Regions from separate parts of the Homo sapiens genome. Here region 2 is linked to region 1. A link means that fine-mapping ties the variant in region 1 to the expression of a gene that starts in the linked region. Tissue or cell type: whole blood. Region 1 holds a variant in brackets; the other region holds the start of a gene. All regions are shown on one strand. Distances are between the middles of the regions.

Region 1 (6,120 bases):
TCCCGCAGGCTGTGCCCCGGACACAAAGCAACTCTGTCTTTACCCTCGTGAGCGCGGCTTGGGCCATAATAGGACTTTTCTTTCATTTGTATCTATTTCTTATTGTAAGCCTTAGATCATTTATTCCCTTCCTTACACTTCTAGAGGTGAAAGAAAACCCAAGTCTGCCTTTGTAAAACCAAGCTGTGGCCTCAGGAGTCAGGGCTGGGGCACTCAGCCTTCCACCCCCCAGGCCTCCTCTGCCACAGGCCTGCTGCATCCGGCTGCATTTCAGTCGGGCAGCCGGTGGGTTTCCTGACATGCGTGATAAGAGTGGGTTTGAGTTTGGTTTGGCTTGTTTTTTACAGTTGAATTCTATATTATTTGGTCAAAATATTACTTTGCAATTTGCAAATGTGGTGGCACCTACCATTTTACTAGCCACAAGTAACTCATAAGTTGACGTAGGACCTGCTCATATTATACCAATATTTTAAGTATTTTATGTTTCATCTTATTAGTTATTCATTTTATTTTATCTAATGCTCTGCCAGAATTCATTCCAAAAGGTAAAAATTACTAAACTATAAGACTCTTAAATAAGGCGTGTATATTAGCAACTTAGTTTCTGACATATAGAACATTAACATTCCACTGTATCTTAAATGTCTTTTGCCTTTTTATTAAAAAATGATTAAATGGTTACTGAAGTTTTCCTCTGCCTGACATATAAATGTCTTCATATTCTAACATGATATTAGGGAACTAAATATATGAGTATAGACTTAATATTTCTTTTGTCAACTAAACTGACTAAATTTTGTCAAAGCAGATTGGAGACATAAAAACAGCTGAAAAGTATTTTCAAGACGTTGAGAAAGTAACACAGAAATTAGATGGACTACAGGGTAAAATCATGGTTTTGATGAACAGGTAAATATTTTAAAACTAAATATATGTTTTCTCAAATTTCCCAGAGGCGTTCAAGCCCCACTTACTGAGTTGGAAAGCTCCCTAGAGAAGGCGCTTCTCCCTGTATCTCCTCTTGCCCTGTGTCTCTCAGAGCGGAGACCCAAGGAGTATACAGGTGTTTTCTTGAATCGCAGTGATGTTCTTTTAGTCACAGAAGCTGATTTTTAAGGAGCTATTCCCCCTTGTTCTTCAGAGAAGCGCTTGTATTGCCCCCGTTTTCAGCGTATGTGTGTGTAAAGGTCACCATTGCTGGCGTAGCGGCCGTTCTGGATCCTGTGCTCTGGTGTTCTGTGTCTGGATCCCGTGCTCTGGTGTTCTGTGTCTGGATCCCGTGCTCTGGTGTTCTGTGGTAGAACGCACAGCGTCGTGCGAGTGCACGTTCGTGAGGAGGAAACACGCCTTGGACAAAGCCTGCAGCCAGGATCAGAAAGCGTAAATAAAGCAGGTGTCCGCTTTTAGCAGGAAGTCATTTAGGTGAAGTTACTCTATCTCAATTAACAAAAACTAGAGTGGCTTGGCCGGGTGCAGTGGCTCATGCCTGTAATCTCAGCACTTTGGGAAGCTGAGGCACGTAGATCACTTGAGGTCAGGAGTTTGAGGCCAGCCTGGCCAACATGGTGAAACCCCATCTCTACTAAAAATACAAAAAATTAGCCAGGCGTGGTGGCAGTCGCCTGTAATCCCAGCTACTTGGGAGGCTGAGGCAGGAGAGTTGCTTGAATCCAGGAGGCGGAGGTTGCGGTGAGCCGAGATCGTGCCACTGCACTACAGCCTGGGCAACGAGAGCAAAACTCCATCTAAAAAATAAAAATAAATAAAAACTAGAGTGGCTTTAATGTGCGAGCCTGAATGCAAAACGCAGCTCACCGCCTCTACCTGGAGATCAGGAACCCCGGGCCACACAGGGCCATACGCTGGGTCTCTGTGGGATCCAAAGCCCCTGTGGGTTGTGTTGGGGGACAGCAGCTCCTGGGCTTTCCCCGCTAACTGCCACCGTTGCTTGTGTTACAGCGCGTTCCTTCACCTCGGGCAGAATAACTTTGCAGAAGCCCACAGGTTCTTCACAGAGATCTTAAGGATGGATCCAAGAAACGCAGTGGTAAGATCCCCAAGCTGCAGGATCCTCCATCCTCTGCCTTTCACAGACGCTAGAAACATACACCCACACACGTCTCAGCAGGGGCCTGCGCTCTCTCTCTCCAGTCCACCAGCTCCAGGCAGTGGCTGTGGCCCTTAGGGGAAGTGACCCAACAGGGCCACCTAGGCTCTGCCCAGCAGCTCTGCACCACCCCCAGGCCCCTAACACGGCCCAGCACGCAGCCTGGAATGGGCGGGCGTCTGTCCTGGTTGTGTGGGCCAACCCTGGGCGTGTGCTCCTCCCTAGGCCAACAACAACGCTGCCGTGTGTCTGCTCTACCTGGGCAAGCTCAAGGACTCCCTGCGGCAGCTGGAGGCCATGGTCCAGCAGGACCCCAGGCACTACCTGCACGAGAGCGTGCTCTTCAACCTGACCACCATGTACGAGCTGGAGTCCTCACGGAGCATGCAGAAGAAACAGGCCCTGCTGGAGGCTGTCGCCGGCAAGGAGGGGGACAGCTTCAACACACAGTGCCTCAAGCTGGCCTAGCTGCCTCCAACACACTACGTCAGAAGGACCCGGGTCTTTGAAACTGTGTCTTGAAGCTAATGTATTAATGTGACATGGAGGAACTCAATAAAACTCCTGCTTCACTGGTGTCTGCTGCGTGTCTTCTTGGTCCCAAGCCACGGCCCAGCCCAGGACTTCCCCGCAGTTGGTCGGCGTTCAGCCACGCAGTCCCTGCAGCTGGGTCACTGTTCATGAATGCAAGGGGCAGGCGTGCTGGGAGGACACAGCTCGTAGACAGGAAATCTGGAGTCAGCCTCGGGGCCTCTGTTCTGGAGGCCAATCCTGCTTTGCTCGTTCCTTCTGGACATCCTCAGAGAAAAGCTGGGAGGTGTGGAGACCCTCTCGCCGTGCACCTGCACGTACAGGGAGATTTACAACAGGGAAGACACCCCCCACAGATCGCCGCTCATGCTCCTCTTGCCCTCCCCACACACCCAAAACTAAGTGCGTTGGTCTTACCCATCCGAGTCTCCTCCAGCCTGATGCCAGCCAAACGACCCCTGCCAGCCTGGCGGTGGAGGAGAGGCCATCACTGTTTCTCCCATAGTTTATACGTCCA[C/G]GTGGAGAGTGAGCTGAGTGGAACAGGAAGCACGACGCATAATGAAGCACAGGAAGAGCGCGTAAAACGCAGGCAGGCAGGGGCTGGGGGTGGTTTTGAAGCCAGACACGTGTTTTCATGTGTTCTCTCATGCCTGAAAGGCCTTTTGCCCTTACGTTTACACAGTTATTCCTGCTTTTGAAGAACTTAAAGTACCTGAAAATGTCTTCACTTTACGAAAGAACTCTGCCAAGGGTTCTCTAAATATCTAGCTTTGTGGATAGTTTTAAATATAATTCATTTTACAGACTGTGATATAAACATTTGCACAAAGCGAAGCCATATTTCTGTTAATTTTTGTAATAGAGTAGAAACATACAAACACTGCATCTACCAGACAGTCTCAGCCCATTTGCTGACATCTAGATTAATTATGCATTAAAAGAAAAGAAAAAAGAGGTGAGACAGCCAAAAGGACTGTTGGACACCAAGGAGGTTTCAAGATCTTTCTCTTCAAAAAGAGAACTGAAACTATTGTTAAGCCCAGAAAGATGAAGATGTAATTAGAAGCCCTCCACCTTGAGGGTCTTCCTTCAAATGTGACTTCAGGGATGAAGTGTAAGGCTCTTCCTCTGCTCCAACCTGGCACCTTACTGCAGGCATCTTACAGGATTTGCCAGAGGATTATGGAGCCCGTCCTTTACAGGCTCGGGGCTCAGAGCTGTCCCCGGCCAGTTGTGCGGGAAAGCAGACAGCAGTGCCCAGGCTCCAGCTAGACATGAGCCCGGCAAATCAGAAACAGAGATCAAAGTTCCCTAGTAAGCTGGTAAGCCTAAATCCACCCTCCCTCCCAAGCCCCACCCCCATGCTGCTGGCATGAGGCCAGGCCAGGTGACAGTATCATTGCCTCGTTTCTTGCCTGGATTATTTCTTCCTGGTTTTTTTGTTTTTTTTTTTTTTTTTTTTTTTGAGACAGGATCTTACTCTGTCATCCATCCAGGCTGAAGTGCAGTGGTGCAAACATGGTTCACTCCAGCCTCAACCTCCTGGGATCAAACGATTCCCCACTCTCAGCCTCCTGAGTAGCTAGGACCACAAGTGTGCTCCACCACGCCCAGATTTTTTTTATTTTTATAAAGATGGGATCTCACTATGTTGCCCAGGCCAGTCCCTAACTCCTGGCCTCAAGTGATCCTCCCACCTCGGCCTCCCAAAGTGCTGGGGTTACAGGTGTGAGCCATGGTGTCCAGCTAATTTTTTTTTCCTACTGCCTGTATGATTGCAGAATTTTTTGTTTTGTTTTGCTAGAAGAGGAAAACGGTGCTGTGAGTGTCTATAACGTCTGGGACAATTGTAGCTTATCTAGTTTACACTTAGCTTTTCTTTATGTTAAAAATAAATTATACATCCCAGAAATCTTTTCTAGAGCCAATTGAAGTGAATGGCTAACGATCAGAAAGCTTATTTTCTAACTGGAAAATGGGAACTCGCTGAGTTGATGATGGGCTCACAACTGTGGAAATGCCCACCCTGGAATGCACAGTGGAGAATGAAGAAGCCAGTAACCCTGATGGCATCGTTACCGAATGGCCAGGGTGTGCCAGGCGGCAAGGGTGGATTTGCTCCCTGAATGATCCATCCAGCTGAATCTTGAGTCATTCCGCGTTTGCCACGAGGGGCAGTGTTAGATCAGTGGTCCTCAAAGTGGGGTCCCCGAAGCAGCAGCACCAGGTTCTCCTGGGAACTTGACGGAAATGCACATCCTCAGCCACATCCTCTGATCACAGAGGAGTCAACTGCTGGGGCCTGGGCTGGGCCGGCCCGACAGTGTCGTCTGCACCGCCCTCCAGGAGCTTCTGGTGCTCCTGCAGGTGTGAGAACGCATGTCAGACGCCGGAGGCCACAGACAGAATTCCAGTTACACAGCAGGCGTTGGAGCCCATGGGCATCGCCATCCTGCCTTACACTGCTGGCCTCTTCTATGCCCCCTCGAGGATTGTGCCCCCACTTGTTCTCTCTGCCTGGACCCCTCCTGGCATGCACCTTCCTAGTCCCTATTCAGTGTCACCCCCTGAAGCCTGCCCTCAACCCCAGGACAGTGCAGCCCCGTCCACACTCCCCTTACCTCTTGTCCTGGACCCACACAGGCTCCGCAGCACCTGCTCCTGGCACGGCCCCACAGTTGCAGTACTTGGGCTGGAGCTGCCGCCATGAGGTCCTCCTTCAAACACCCAGTTCCAGCGTTCCCCGGGAAGCTTCCCATGCCATCTTGTCACGTCTTGCACCCAGCACCGAGGGTGAGGCCCGGCAAAGCAGAGCTGCAGGGGCTCAGCTGTGTACACCACAGTTCTTGAGACGCCCACCTGTGTGTCCTCCCCGATCCTGCTCCACAGGTCCAGGCCCAGGCCCAGAGGTAGCCCCTGCGTTCCCGTGGCTTCAGGCACACGTGTGCAGACATGACGCCGAGAACACCGGCTTTGCCACCAAGGACAGAAGACAGTCTGCCCCACCCGGGGTCACCTGCAGGTCCTGCTCTGACCAGGGTCCAGGCCCTGATTCCGGGGATGCGACAGCACCCAGAATGTCCTGCCTTGTGTGGCACGTGGGACCGGGGACTCGGGCCCCAGGGCTCCCAACCCTGGCTGTGGAGAGTGGGTGGCTCCGCTGCTGGTCGGGGGCACTGTGTGGGCAGACAGCGTGCCAGTGGCCACAGGATGTCCTGACAGCAGAGGCGCTAAACACTCCAGGAGCGCCTCAGCCCCAAGCTCTGGTTCCACCCCTTGCGGGTGAGGGAGGCCCAATGACAGCCAGACTCCATCAGTTCAGAGGCAGGGGCTAGAGATGGATTTAATTCAACTTAAAAAGAAATACAAGAATGGACCTTTTCTGCAGTCCTGAGGGAGTGGACAGGTTGCGTGCGTGCTCTGACGGTGGGATCCAGACCCCCTCCTCTCCTGCGTTGAAGGTGCCACCGGGCCTCATC
Region 2 (5,000 bases), 100 kb before region 1:
CACAATCCTCATCTTCCTCCCCCGCTCATCTCATCCCCTACCTCATTCCCCCTGACGCATTTACTCTATCCACGGCAGCTTTCTTGCTGTCCTGAACTACCATGTGCATTGCTTATGCTCTGGGGGCTCATTCGGTTCATAGTCATTTGTTGAACACCTACTATGTGACAGTCATGAAAAGGCACTGGAAAATACAAGGTAAAAAACTAGTGTGAAAACAGTTGAATCCGAAGACAGTCTGTGGTTTACTGAATATTAGTGTACCAATGTTAATTTCTAAGCTGTGATAAATGTACGATGGTTATGTAAAGTGTTAACATTAAGGGAAGCTGGGTGGAGGGTAAAGAAGAACTTTCTATGTATTTTTACAACTCTTCTAAATACTTTAAATTGTTTCAAAATCAAACATTTTTATTTTAAACAACATACAGTTCCTACCTTCAGGAACTCAAATTCTAGAGGAAAAGGTGGGCGTGTAAATAAATGAGTCCACCAAAGTGAGTGATAACTTCCAGGTCAGAAGTCATGTTCGGGACAGGATGTGAAGGGGAAGGAGGCAGGCCGGCTGTGGCCAACCCTGTTATCCAGTACAACCGTTTAACCTCCTAAAGCCTCAGTTTACTTCTCTGCAAAATGGGAACTAGGGAACAGACACGGGTCCTTGCAGGGCTGGTGGGAGATCTGCAAACCGAAGTCACCATGGGACCGCGCATGCTATCAACAGCCAGGCCGAGCAGCACCTGCCGCCCTCCCAGTGACCCACCTGGAACTCCAGCCCGTAGATCACTGGTGCATCGTCCTCCATGCTGCGGGGAAGCGACCCGACCCCGGCCACTCACACGCTAAGGACCTCGCTACGGCCGGCGCGTCCCCACCTCGCGGGCGTGTTCCCAGCGCCCATTCATTCCCTCCCCGCAGCAAACGACTCCAAACTGGAAGTCTTTCTGGCCCAGAACAGCTTCCGTAGTGGCCACTTCCTATTTTTCGGATGTGTCATCAATCTGTTCCTCACCAGCGACCAATGGCAGCGGCGCTGGCTTGTGCGCATGGCCACTTGGGCTCACATCCGGGCTCTCAGCGCGGGGACTCCTGGAGGTGAGAACCCGGCCCAGAGGAAATAAGTTGGTGGGCGGAGCGGGCCGCGGAGGCCGGCTGTGGGTGGAGGCCGGCTCCGAGCGCAGGCCGTCGGGAGCAAGCGGCGATTAGCCTTAGCTAGCCATCGCATCTAAGAATCGCTCACGCCGTAGTTGGGCGCCGCCATGTATTGTCATTTGTATGTACTTGGCGTTCCTGAGCGCTGGGCCAGCGCTTCACACGCACTGCCATAAGGAGCTTCATCCAACCCTATGAATAAGCTGTTACACTTCCATTTTACCGATGAGACGCTGCAAAGTTGAGTAACACAGTCGCAGCGCTCATTGGTCCATTGGGTAGCCAGGATGGGCACCTGAGCTGACTCCCTTAGGTTCGGCCCAAGGTGCCCTAAGTCAGGGCCATGCCTAATGCATTTCTGCAGGTGCCCAGCACTGTGTGGCAAAGAAAGCACTACCAAGGATGGGGTTATGAAAGCCGGCACCGCACCACTGGTGGTCCTGGACTGCATATGCCTCCGAATGGGAGTCGGAAGGGAAGGCCCTGGGGTTCCTAGAGGTCTCCAAAGACTAAAGACTTGTGGTGGAGAGACTGCCCCTCTTTCGCATCCTGCTCAAAGTGCCTGCCCTGGCCTTGGGCCAGCAGAAATGGCATCGCAAGGACTCCAAAATACATCATAGCTGAACCACGCCGCTAGCCTGGTTCCACCGGGGCTTCCAGGACCACGCACCTTTCCTCCATTTCTGTGATTAGCTTTCCCCTCTACCCTTTATTGATCTCCGTGACGGAAATGGTTGGGTCTCGTTTTGCTCAGTTGGGCAAGGCGCGTGGTATTGAGTTAAGGCTGGATGAGTATCTGTTGAGTGTATGAAATTTTAGAGATTACATGAGAAATCAAATGAGCAGGCCGGGCGCGGTGGCTCACGCTTGTAACCCCAGCATTTTGGGAGGCTGAGGAGGGTGGATCACAAGGTCAGTTCGAGACCTGCCTGGCCAACACAGTGAAACCCCGTCTCTACTAAAAATACGAAACTTAGCCCAGCGTGGTGGCACGCGCCTGTAATCCCAGCTACTCGGGAGGCTGAGGCAGGAGAATCGCTTGAACCCGGGAGGCGGAGGTTGCAGTGAACCGAGATCGCGCCACTGCACTCCAGCCTGGGCGACAGAGCCAGAGTCGGTCAAAAAAAAAGAAAAGAAAAGAAAGAAATCAAGTAAGCAAAAACAAGAAAGAAAGAAATCAAGTAAGCAATGGCCCAGACATGAGAATCATCCTATTCAACCACTCTGTTTGCCGATATTAACTTGCGGAGCTAAGAGGGCCTTCATACTTCGGGATTAAACCCACCCATCTATCACTGATATCTTTATCATTAATTTTATTATACAAGTACTGCAGGTGCATGGTAAGAAACTTACAAAATACAGATAAACACAAAGACAAATCCATAGAAACACTGATTTCTAGGATATGCTGGTCAATAAAAATAGCCTAAGCGACTCCCTTTCACCCGCCCCATCTGCCACAGGCTTGCCTATTGCCTCTGAGTGACAGAATCAGGCTAGGTGGAGTGGAGTCTCCGTTCCCATTTCCAAGTACAGGGTCCGCTCCCCTCAACTACCGGCTCCTGGTTGCCTGTGCGCGTTCACACCTAGGGCTCCAGGCCCCGCCCACAGCAGACGAACCGGAAACGAACCCCATTTCCGGCCTGGGGGCAGGGCCTCGGGTTCCTGCATCGGGCCTGAGCAGAACTAGGCGCGCCGCGGCCCGGCACGCGCAGGCGTACAGAGCTCCCCGGGGGTGCCAGTTCCTCTCCGATTCCCGGCTTCTGTCACCTTCCTCACGGACCTTGGTCACGGCCGCAGGTGACCCCTTAGCCCAGCTCCAGTGGGCGGGTGGCAGGTGAGGATCAGGGCCTCGGCAGTCCAGAGGGGATGGGACCGTGTAGCGCCACCTCGGGGAGGGAGCACACTGGCTTTGGCCTCAGCCCGGAGGGACCTTCTCTGGGACCGATGCTAGAGTGGGCGTGGGGTCCGGGCGCGGGGTCGCCTGCCACCCAAGGGCGTGTGTGCTCCGCGGGCCTTGTGCCAGGCTCCACGTCGCCGCGGCCCTTGCTCTCCACGTCTGCAGAGGGCTGGAAGCGTCTCTGCAGCCCGCGGAGTTTGCGGGAAGGGGAAGCTGCTGCGAAGCGTGTGGGAAACTACCCGCTGGCGCGCGCCCAGGCGTCCCCGAGACCCCCAGTTCCAGGCTTGGTGCCAGCCAGGCCCCCAGCAAGCCCCTTAACTTCCCTTAGACTTAATTCACCCTCCCGCGGAAAGAGGTTACTAATGACCTGCCCTGCCAAACTCAGCATTGTGAGGCTGCAATGCAGTGTAAAAGCATTTGAGTCACTGTGTAAACGTCCGCTGTTGCTACACATACTAATTGTAGAGTATATTTACTGTGAAGACCGAAAAAGCGTTTATTCAACAGAAAGCGTTAGGGTCAAAGATGTGTTTTAACGTGTCATTTTTTCACTCTTCACTACGAAACAGTGTAGCCCCAAGGAAAAATTTTCTTGGACCTACGGTTTGTACTTTTTAATGGCTACTTGAAGATATGGTGTCTTTGGATTCAGTCACTGTTCGCAAATTCAGAAGATAGTGGCGGATAATGAGCCAGTCCCGTCTTGGGATTGGGGTGGGAGAGGGACAGGGGAAAAGCAAATGAAATATTACACAGTGTTACTCATTCAGTTCTTACATTTTGTGATATCTGATGGGATCTTCTTCACAGTTACTAAACTGGGTGTTGCCACTCTGCTTTATCATTAAAATGATAATTACTATGCTTGTGTCTGTGCAGCTCTTCACACTTTAAAAGATGCCTATGCAGGGGTGCCACTATTTAATCCTCTTTATTCTGATGTACCATCTAAAAGATCAAGATTTTCAGAGGTTACTTCACTTGGTCGGGAAGCTAAGACTCAACACAGTTATTGAGACACTGCCTTCAGAGCTCTTTCTGCCCACCCCTGCCTGGCAACCTTGCAAGAGGAGCTGAGAGGTGACCAGCACAAAGAAAAGAGTATTGGCAGAAAGCGCTGTGTGGGTAGCCTGTCACCATCAGGTACTGTCAGTGTGATGTTAGGCAAATCACTTGGCCTTCTCTGCTGTATGATGGAGGTAATAATAATGCTTCAAAAGTTTAGGATGAGTATTAAATAATAAGGTAAAATGCTTGATCTGTAGTGAGTGTTCATTACATGGAGACTTCTGTTAATACGTGCCACCTAGATTTCCACTACACACCCTCGTGCCCTTATGGAAGGAAATTTTACATGACTGCAATTTGGTAAAAGATATGTTTACAGAGTGTCTGTGTCCAGGAAATGAACCTGAGAAACCAAGTTTTAAATGTTGTTAGGAACTTTTTATTTCTCAAATACAGAATTACTTAAATTTAATATTTAAAAAAATTTTAAACAATTAATTAATCACATTCTTGTGCAAAGCCCTCAACTGGACAAGGAGAAAGTCAGATTTCTTTGCTGCACTGTGATGTAAAGCTTCTGTAAGCTTATGTAAGCTTAAAATCCTATTTATAGTTTAATAAAAATAAAGCCAATGATAGGAGGGAGTAAAGATTTCTATCACGTACAAATCAAGAACAGATACTTGTGTTTTTCCATTTTTAATTATGAACTATAAAGACTACCCGTAACACACATGTGAGATTTAAAGATCAAGTCAACCCAGTCTTCCATTACCAGCATAAGATGGGGACCATTTCCCAGTGCGTTGAAACTTCCGTGTGTCCCTCCCCAGTCAAGCTCTCCTGCCATCACCTTCCACCCCTCCCTCACTAAAGTGGCTGTTACTATATCCTGGCTTTTCTTTGTAGTTTGACCAAATATGTTTGTGTTCCTAAC

What was found. PIP is the estimated chance that this variant, and not a neighbour inherited with it, causes the effect.
Region 2: it holds the start of TRAPPC12, and the variant in region 1 is fine-mapped to the expression of TRAPPC12 in whole blood (TOPMed, PIP above 0.99).

The regions. Positions count from the first base shown.
Region 1 is chr2:3,476,884-3,483,003 of GRCh38, forward strand. It overlaps TRAPPC12 (trafficking protein particle complex subunit 12), which reads left to right. Exons shown (of 12, transcript NM_016030.6): 10 at 812-912; 11 at 1,963-2,050; 12 at 2,336-2,682. The coding sequence ends at 2,578. It overlaps TRAPPC12-AS1 (TRAPPC12 antisense RNA 1), which reads right to left. Exons shown (of 2, transcript NR_046720.1): 1 at 5,263-6,120; 2 at 1,710-5,002. It also overlaps the pseudogene LOC112268321. Among named protein-coding and RNA genes, the nearest start is that of TRAPPC12-AS1, 3.3 kb to the right of the region's middle. The variant C/G (reference allele first, on the strand shown) is at 3,159.
Region 2 is chr2:3,376,885-3,381,884 of GRCh38, forward strand. TRAPPC12 (trafficking protein particle complex subunit 12) reads left to right here and starts at 2,810. Exons shown (of 12, transcript NM_016030.6): 1 at 2,810-2,992. It overlaps EIPR1 (EARP complex and GARP complex interacting protein 1), which reads right to left and starts at 934. Exons shown (of 9, transcript NM_003310.5): 1 at 764-934. The coding sequence starts at 805. RefSeq lists enhancers at 438-717, 738-917, 938-987, 1,259-1,775, 1,776-2,292 and silencers at 1,158-1,217, 2,781-2,830.